2 linked regions of the Homo sapiens genome follow. The protein of the gene in region 2 interacts with the protein of the main gene of each other region in a pairwise test. Each region holds a gene or a part of one and is shown on either strand. Other genes may lie near its edges. The genes, in order: STAT4 and SH2D1B.

What was found.
Region 1: the proteins of SH2D1B (region 2) and STAT4 interact in a two-hybrid assay, tested with the Homo sapiens proteins (one large-scale study listed by BioGRID and IntAct).

What each region holds. Positions count from the first base shown.
Region 1 is NC_000002.12:191,028,837-191,032,622, reverse strand, and holds the end of STAT4 (signal transducer and activator of transcription 4), read left to right. Parts: intron 1-308; exon of another isoform or gene 309-451; intron 452-1,106; coding exon 1,107-1,173; intron 1,174-1,525; exon of another isoform or gene 1,526-1,542; coding exon 1,543-1,651; exon of another isoform or gene 1,652-1,738; intron 1,739-2,756; coding exon 2,757-2,783; 3' UTR 2,784-3,047; downstream 3,048-3,786. UniProt on the Homo sapiens protein: Transcriptional regulator mainly expressed in hematopoietic cells that plays a critical role in cellular growth, differentiation and immune response. Plays a key role in the differentiation of T-helper 1 cells and the production of interferon-gamma.
Region 2 is NC_000001.11:162,394,875-162,398,700, forward strand, and holds the end of SH2D1B (SH2 domain-containing protein 1B), read right to left. Parts: intron 2,442-3,826; coding exon 2,406-2,441; 3' UTR 394-2,405; downstream 1-393. UniProt on the Homo sapiens protein: Cytoplasmic adapter regulating receptors of the signaling lymphocytic activation molecule (SLAM) family such as CD84, SLAMF1, LY9 and CD244. In SLAM signaling seems to cooperate with SH2D1A/SAP.

The sequences.
Region 1 (3,786 bases), on a different chromosome or scaffold from region 2:
AAGAAAGAGGGGGTAATGATGAGAAGCTTTTAATAGTAAAACAAGTCTGTATATTGCAAAGGAACCCCAGGGTTTATAAGTTTTATATTTTTAACCTTACTGTAGTCTTACAACTCAGGGTATTTGTTCATTTGCTAGGGAGGGGACCTGTGGATCTCTGCTTCATCCTCTCCCTCCCCCACACTCCCAGCCTACCTTTCCTGGTTGTATCCTAGGACCTAGAGCAATGTCTGGCTAAAAGAGGGATTCAGTAAATATTTGTTGAATACATAAAAGAAAATTTGTTAAATTACTATGCAATTTTAAGGTACGTTCACCATTCTGTTTCTTTAATGAAAGTGTATACAATCCATAAAAATCTTCATCTATAGCACTAAATCTTTGGGCACCATCATGTAGAATATCCTACAGTTGTCACTCACAGACTTGCAGCCACCTGACTTCATGCCCTCTGAAATAAACAAAAATACAAAAGAAAATAAAATCAAACAAACCTGTGGCTTTTCAGTGACTTTCAACAACTGATAAAAATGAAATAACAAATATCAATGCAACAAATTAGGGTTGGAAAATTGGAACAAATACTAGTTCAACATGGTATACCAGAGAAGTTTGGGGAATTTTTCCAAGGTGAGGTTTGCACATGACTGTTACTACAGTACAATGATACTTTTGGGAACACTGACATCTGTACTTCAAGAACGTTTGCAATCATAAGATTCTGATTGGTGTCAATTTTAATGAAAAGAACTGGGTTATTATATCTCCCAAAACATGACTCAATCAGTCCTTATAATCAAACATAAATGAAACGTAGAAAACAGGTAATAGAGTTGATTCTCAATTTTTCCCACACAGTTTAGAGGCATTAATATGTAAAGTCAGATTAGGCCTGCCAAGAGATTTGTTTTTCTCTTCTTGCACATTTTATGCTTATCTAAAAGATTGTGTCCCCTATTTAACAAAACATTTCTGTGTATCACCGAACAACTGCGTTATCTCTCTTCCTCTTATCATTGTTAATATTTTTCTAGACTCTTTTTTCCCCAGTTTTATTGATAATATTGACATTTTTTTCCCCAACATTGTGCCTTTTTGTTTTCCAGTTTCAAGACCAACAGAAAGGGGTGACAAAGGTTATGTTCCTTCTGTTTTTATCCCCATCTCAACAATGTGAGTAATGTTAGTCACATGTGAAATATTTTTATAAAAAGCTTTCCTATAGGAGATTTAAAGGTAGAGCAGAGTACACATAACTGAGAACAAAGCATTGTAATGTGCAATGTCCCATTTCCTTTAATACATAAGGCTAGCCTTCAGGGCACACTTACCACAATCTATTGTGCCTAAAATTATAAAATTCCCCTTTTATATGCCATATATGCCACAGTAAGTTGAGTGTTCTGATATGAAATGATGAATTAGATAACTCAATGTCACAAATAGATGAAGCCCTAGAAATGAGTTCCTGACATAGTAAGTCACCGTGAACTATTATTATTTTTTAATCCTTGTCCATATTGACCTTGTTATCTCTTTAAGCCGAAGTGATTCAACAGAGCCACATTCTCCATCAGACCTTCTTCCCATGTCTCCAAGTGTGTATGCGGTGTTGAGAGAAAACCTGAGTCCCACAACAATTGAAACTGCAGTATGTTCCCTTTATTTTCCATTGCTGGTCAAAGGTGTTTCCAACGATGCAAAGGTGGTGTGTGAATCAAAGGGGCTGAAATACTGCCTGGGTAGGGAGAAAACACATTTATTGGAACAAATTCATGAGCATAACACAAAAGGTGTCTGGATGGTCCTGCGTGTTGCTGATATTATGCGTATTGAAAGCAGACACCTTCAGTTACTTAAACTGCTTTACGTTGTTTCCACCAGAAACCACCAGAGGGCAAAATATTCCTATACCCTACTCAAGCACACTATCGCTGCTTGCACCATGGGCCCCCTCACTCCCCACCACTCTCTACTTTAGCAAACACCATTTATTGGTCAATATTTATAAACCTAGTATACTATCTAGTTTACTAGTTACTTACTATCTAGTAAACCCAGTTTGCTATCTTAACAGTGCAAACATCACAAATTGCAATTTTTCTTGATTGTGACTTGCATTTCTAGAACCCGGAGCCTCATCAATAATATATGAATAACAGTCAATGGCATAATAATGCTCTCCTTTTTGAGAAATGAGTCATAATCTTTAATGCAATAATGTTATTTGGGATGCATGCTATTTGCTCTTATCCACCAATACTGTCAATGGGTTCAAACCCCCAATTTACATGAAAGTGAACATACATCAGAATAATATAATAGAAACTTGGAGAGACCCTAAGCCTCAAAAAATTTTTATCTGGCTGGCTTTTAGTCCTTCTCTTGAAGATTTCCATAGATGAAAAATTCACTTTACTTTGATAGCTTATTCTAATGTTAGTTCCCTTAAATCGTCAAGTTATTTATGTCTAACTGAACATTTGCTACATTTTGCACCCATTTCCTCATTATGTTTTTGGTGGATAAACAGGCCTTTTTCTTAAAACACTTTTCTGTCTCCTTGAAAGGTACCTTTTATTTTAGACTGATCAACCCCAATTACTTTTGCAAATACTTAGTTTAAGTATTTTAACTAGGTAATAGAAAAATTATGGAGTAATTCGTAGAAAAGAGGACGTTTATTTGCCCAAGAAATAGTGATTGATTTGAAAACCAGTAGTTTCCTCAAAGATTATTTTCATTTTTAATTTTAGATGAAGTCTCCTTATTCTGCTGAATGACAGGATAAACTCTGACGCACCAAGAAAGGAAGCAAATGAAAAAGTTTAAAGACTGTTCTTTGCCCAATAACCACATTTTATTTCTTCAGCTTTGTAAATACCAGGTTCTAGGAAATGTTTGACATCTGAAGCTCTCTTCACACTCCCGTGGCACTCCTCAATTGGGAGTGTTGTGACTGAAATGCTTGAAACCAAAGCTTCAGATAAACTTGCAAGATAAGACAACTTTAAGAAACCAGTGTTAATAACAATATTAACAGAAGACTCGCTTGCCTGTGTTTGGTTTATTTCTCATTTTGTCTCTCTGGTGTTACTACGATTTTAGCTAGAAGATGTAAGTGTTAATGTTTCAGGGTAGGTCAAGAATAATAAAGTCACACCTACACCTCAGCAAGAAGGCGTGAGGGAAAAGCCAAATAAGCCAATCAGTATGATGAACGCTAGCAGGCATGGTGATCACAGTAGATCCAAGAGGAAAGTCGTGATGGGACATTAGCAGAAATTCACGGGGCATCCAGGGTTGAATTATGAAGCCTCCTTAGTGCCATGTCAACGTTATTCCAACTATGGGGTTCAACAGCTGCTGGTTCCAAAGGAGGAGGGATCCAGAGTCATTCCTGGTGGTATCTTGGGCAAACTGCACTGATTTTACAGGTATTGTAAGCAGACACATGGGTTAAAAAAATAATAATTTAAAAAAACTCATGAGGACTAGGAGGATGAAATGAGGACTAGGAGAATAACAACTCTGGCCTTGGGTAACTGATTTTATTCATAGGTTGCTCATTCTTCATCTCTAGAAGAGGTAAGACTATGTGGGTTCTATGATCTTTCCCAGCTCTAATAGTCTCTCTGGTCCTAAGAATCCAACCTGAGACTGGGGAAAGAGGTTTAGGATGAGATGTTCCATTCCTTCAATTTTCTCTAGTAAAGAGGAAGGGTAGTTGGTTTCCTGGATAGTAATGTATGTGAATTGCAAGTCTATTTTGGTCCTTGCCTCACC
Region 2 (3,826 bases):
AGTAGCTGGGATTATAGGCGTGTGCCACCACACCTGGCTACATTTTTGTATTTTTGTAGAGACAGGGTTTCACCATGTTGGCCAGGCTGATCTTGAGCTCCTGACCTCAAGTGATCCCCCCACCTCGGCCTCCCAAAGTGCTGGGATTACAGGTGTGAGCCACCACACCCAGCCCAGAACAAATAATCTTTACCTGAAGAGTTGTTGCAGAAAATGGTAAAAGGAAAAAGACTTTTCTTCGCTTTATATGAACAGTGTAACCATGATTCAGTAAATTATAGTCCTATTTGGTTTATGAGTTTTAATGCAAAAATCTTAAATGAAATATTAACTTACCAAATTCCACAGTTTATGAAAAATAATAAAATATTATCAAGTGAAGCAATGCAAGGATGAAATGATATCAACAATTTTATTAAGGTAACTTACCTTTATAATGGAGTGAAGACAAAAGGAATGTGACTATCTCAATAGATTAGAGATAGAAAAAAATCACAATAAATGTCAAAATATTTCTAGTAAAAATTATAAAATAGCCTTTAACAAGGCTACAACAAACATAATGTTTAAATAAAGAAAATTTCTAAGCATTCCCTGTAATACTGGGAACAGTGTAAGAATACTCACTATCATGACTATGAACTGTTTAATGTATACAGGAGGCCCTAACCAATGGGTAAACATAAAAAATAAATGAGCATAGGTATTGCAAGGAAAGAGAAAATAAAATGTTATTATTTATAGCTGACAAAATCATTTACATAGAAAACACAATAGAATCAACAGGTAAACTAGTAGATCTAATGAGAGGGTTAACATTTCACCAACACCATATCCTATTAGAAATGTAATAAAACATAAGATATCATTTACAGCAACTAGAAATAGGAATTAATCTAACAGAATATACAAGACTTCAGTTGGGAAAATTTATGACTCCATGAAAGGGCAAAAAAGATGACCCAAGAACATGGATGTGGCATGTTTATGCATGGGAAAACATCACAAGAACGTCAGTTCTCTCCTATTTACAAATTTGTTGCAAGTTCATTAAAAATTCCAAAAAGAGGTTTTAAGCAATTTCACGTATTTATTATAAAATGTATATAGAAGAATCAAGGTCCATGAATACCTAAGCCAGTTTTGAAAAGTAAAAGAGGACATTTGTCCTACCTACCAGACCCAGGGAATAGTAGCCATAAATTGCTGTGACCCCAAATCTCACAATGCTCCACACTTTGGGGCTCCAGCCACAGTGTCTGTTCATCTGTTCATATTACCTCTAAGTCGAGAGCTCCTCTCTTTTAAAACTCTGAAGATAAGTCCAGTGGGGTGAAATACATTACTACAATTTGATGATAGGTAAGAGAAAGGGCATAGAATTTGGTATATTTCAAACTGACCAGGTCCTAATTCACATTTTGAACTAGCAGAAAAATTCAGCAAATCAATTTCAGTAAACCTTAAAAACCAATTCAACAAACCTCCCTCAGCAATGTGCTTCCAGTCAGTTTCTATGAACTAGGCACAGCTCTGGGCAGCACAAATTTCTACACACTGTGGAAGATACAAGGGAGACCCAACCGTGCTTTGATGGCACTTAGAACCTAGTTGGGAACAGAAATCACACATAGAATATTTTAGAAATCTCCACATACATCACTGTACAGAACCACATTCATGCTGTTGAAATGACTGATGCATAAGTGGAATTAAGCAAAACCAGGGAGAAAGTGTGGCTGGGGCAATGCTCACCAGGAAGTTTAAGATTAGAAAGAACCAGGAGGAGAGTAGCCCAGGCTGGAGGGAGAAGGGTGCACATGGGGGTCCAGCAGGTACAGAGAAGGTGCTGATCTGTATGCATCTCCATCACTCCCGATCCCTCACCTTCACCTGACACAAGCAGGCTCAACAGAGAGACTGGGGCAATGTTTATCATCCCACCCAACCACAGAGACAAAGAAACTAAGACCTGGAGATGGGCAGAAACGTGTTCAAAGTCACACAGCCACAGGACTGGAACTCAGGGCTTCAAACTCACAGACAAGTGTGCCCCTCCTCTGTATAAAGCTGCCCCTCTGACTGCATGGTCCAAAGGAGGGTGTCAACCATGATGTAGGGTGGTACCTTTAACAAGTCAAAGGGAAAATGTTCAGGCTGTCCCATTCCAAGAAAGAAGAGTGAAACTGGAGAGGGTTTTGAAATTGCTCCTGGTATATGTCTGGGAGGCGGGGATGTGGAGAGTGACCTCTGGTGCTGGTGGGCAGAACATCTTCAGTTACACAACCAGGAGAGTCTGAATTGTCCACTAGAGTTTGGTGCTCTGGACCTATGCCTGCAGAAGTGGGTCATCAGTGAGAACTGTTACTCATCTCTTCAACTTGCTTTGTCCGGCAGCCTTATCTTCAAGGCAAGACATCCACATAATCGCTGTTACTGTTCTTTGGAGGGAAAAAAAAAGCAGAAGACCAGCCATGAGACCACACCCAGAAGTCATATCAAACAACCCCACTCAAAGGAAAGAAGACCCCTCCCCAGGCACAGAGCCATGTTGATGCCACCTGAAAGTTGTATCTTTAAAGGCTGGGGTACTACAGGGAGCCCTCCTAACAAAATAGGAGATCTCTTTATAAGCCAAGCCTCAGACCTTCCAGCACAAGTGTCTCCATTCACCAGCAAGAAATCTGCACCTCCCTTGGAGTAAGAACATCTGAAGCTTCTTCTAAGGAAGCAATGGGAATGGGAGGAAGAGGTTGATGGGGAATATTTCCTCTTCAGTAGCTGAGAATTTTGGAGCCTGCTGTGTCAGCACTGACCCGGCATGGAAAACTGATGGAGTGAGATTCATGCCCAGGTCTTGGGGAAGATTTCTGAGGGTTCTCCTCCTGGGATTTATGATTCTTTTCTCATTGTTGAGACAAATGCTACCACCACCCCAACCAGTCCCAGCAACTCATCTGGGTTTGCCTAAGGGCTGCAGCACAGATACATTCCTGGGTTTCTAGATCTGCCACACTGTATACTTTTTATTCTATAAATTTGGGGGGGAAAGTAGCTGTGGGACTACATCTGCAGCTGGACCTATAGAAAGTGATTTTTTTGTGTCCATGAGTACACACTGCCCTTCATGGGGATGGGGGGACAGGGACACAATGGTAGGGAAGGGAGTTGTATTTTATGCTTAGCCTTGCTGGGGAAATGAGAAGCCGGCTATGGCAGCCTAAAGGGTGACTTTGCCGCAGACAGAGTAGAATGGGGATGGAGTGATTGCAGGCTCCCAGAGAACTCTCTGTCCTCTGTCCCTCTCCTAGGGAGGATATCTGATCTCATCCCATCACCTGCCACTGATAACTGCCATCCCTTTCACTGAGAATATAACCACACATTCCAACATGGGAAAACAGGATTAAGACCTAAGTGTTTCTGGAAGTCTGAGCTAAATTCAAACAACATTGCAACTGATAGTAAATTCTTTACTGAGAGCAGATTTCAAGAGTGTGGGTAAGGAAGAGTAGCTGCTCATGATATAATTTGAGAGGCTTAGGCAGGGATTCTCTGCACTCAGATTTACTGACCATCTCTCATTTTCCACTACGGCTTAATGCCTTTAAAAATGTATCTGACATAATTTGACACCCAGCACTTTATAAATGAATGCTTAGCAAATATTGAGCAAAGTGTAACAGTATACGCTTTGGGGAGGGCTTGAAGGGCTAGAGTGATTTTCTCATTTGAAAATCTGCCCATTTGCCCATTTATTCTCAAACTTGAATCGTCTGCACAAGGTCACAGAATGAATTTGAAGTCAGCTGTCTGCCCAGGAACC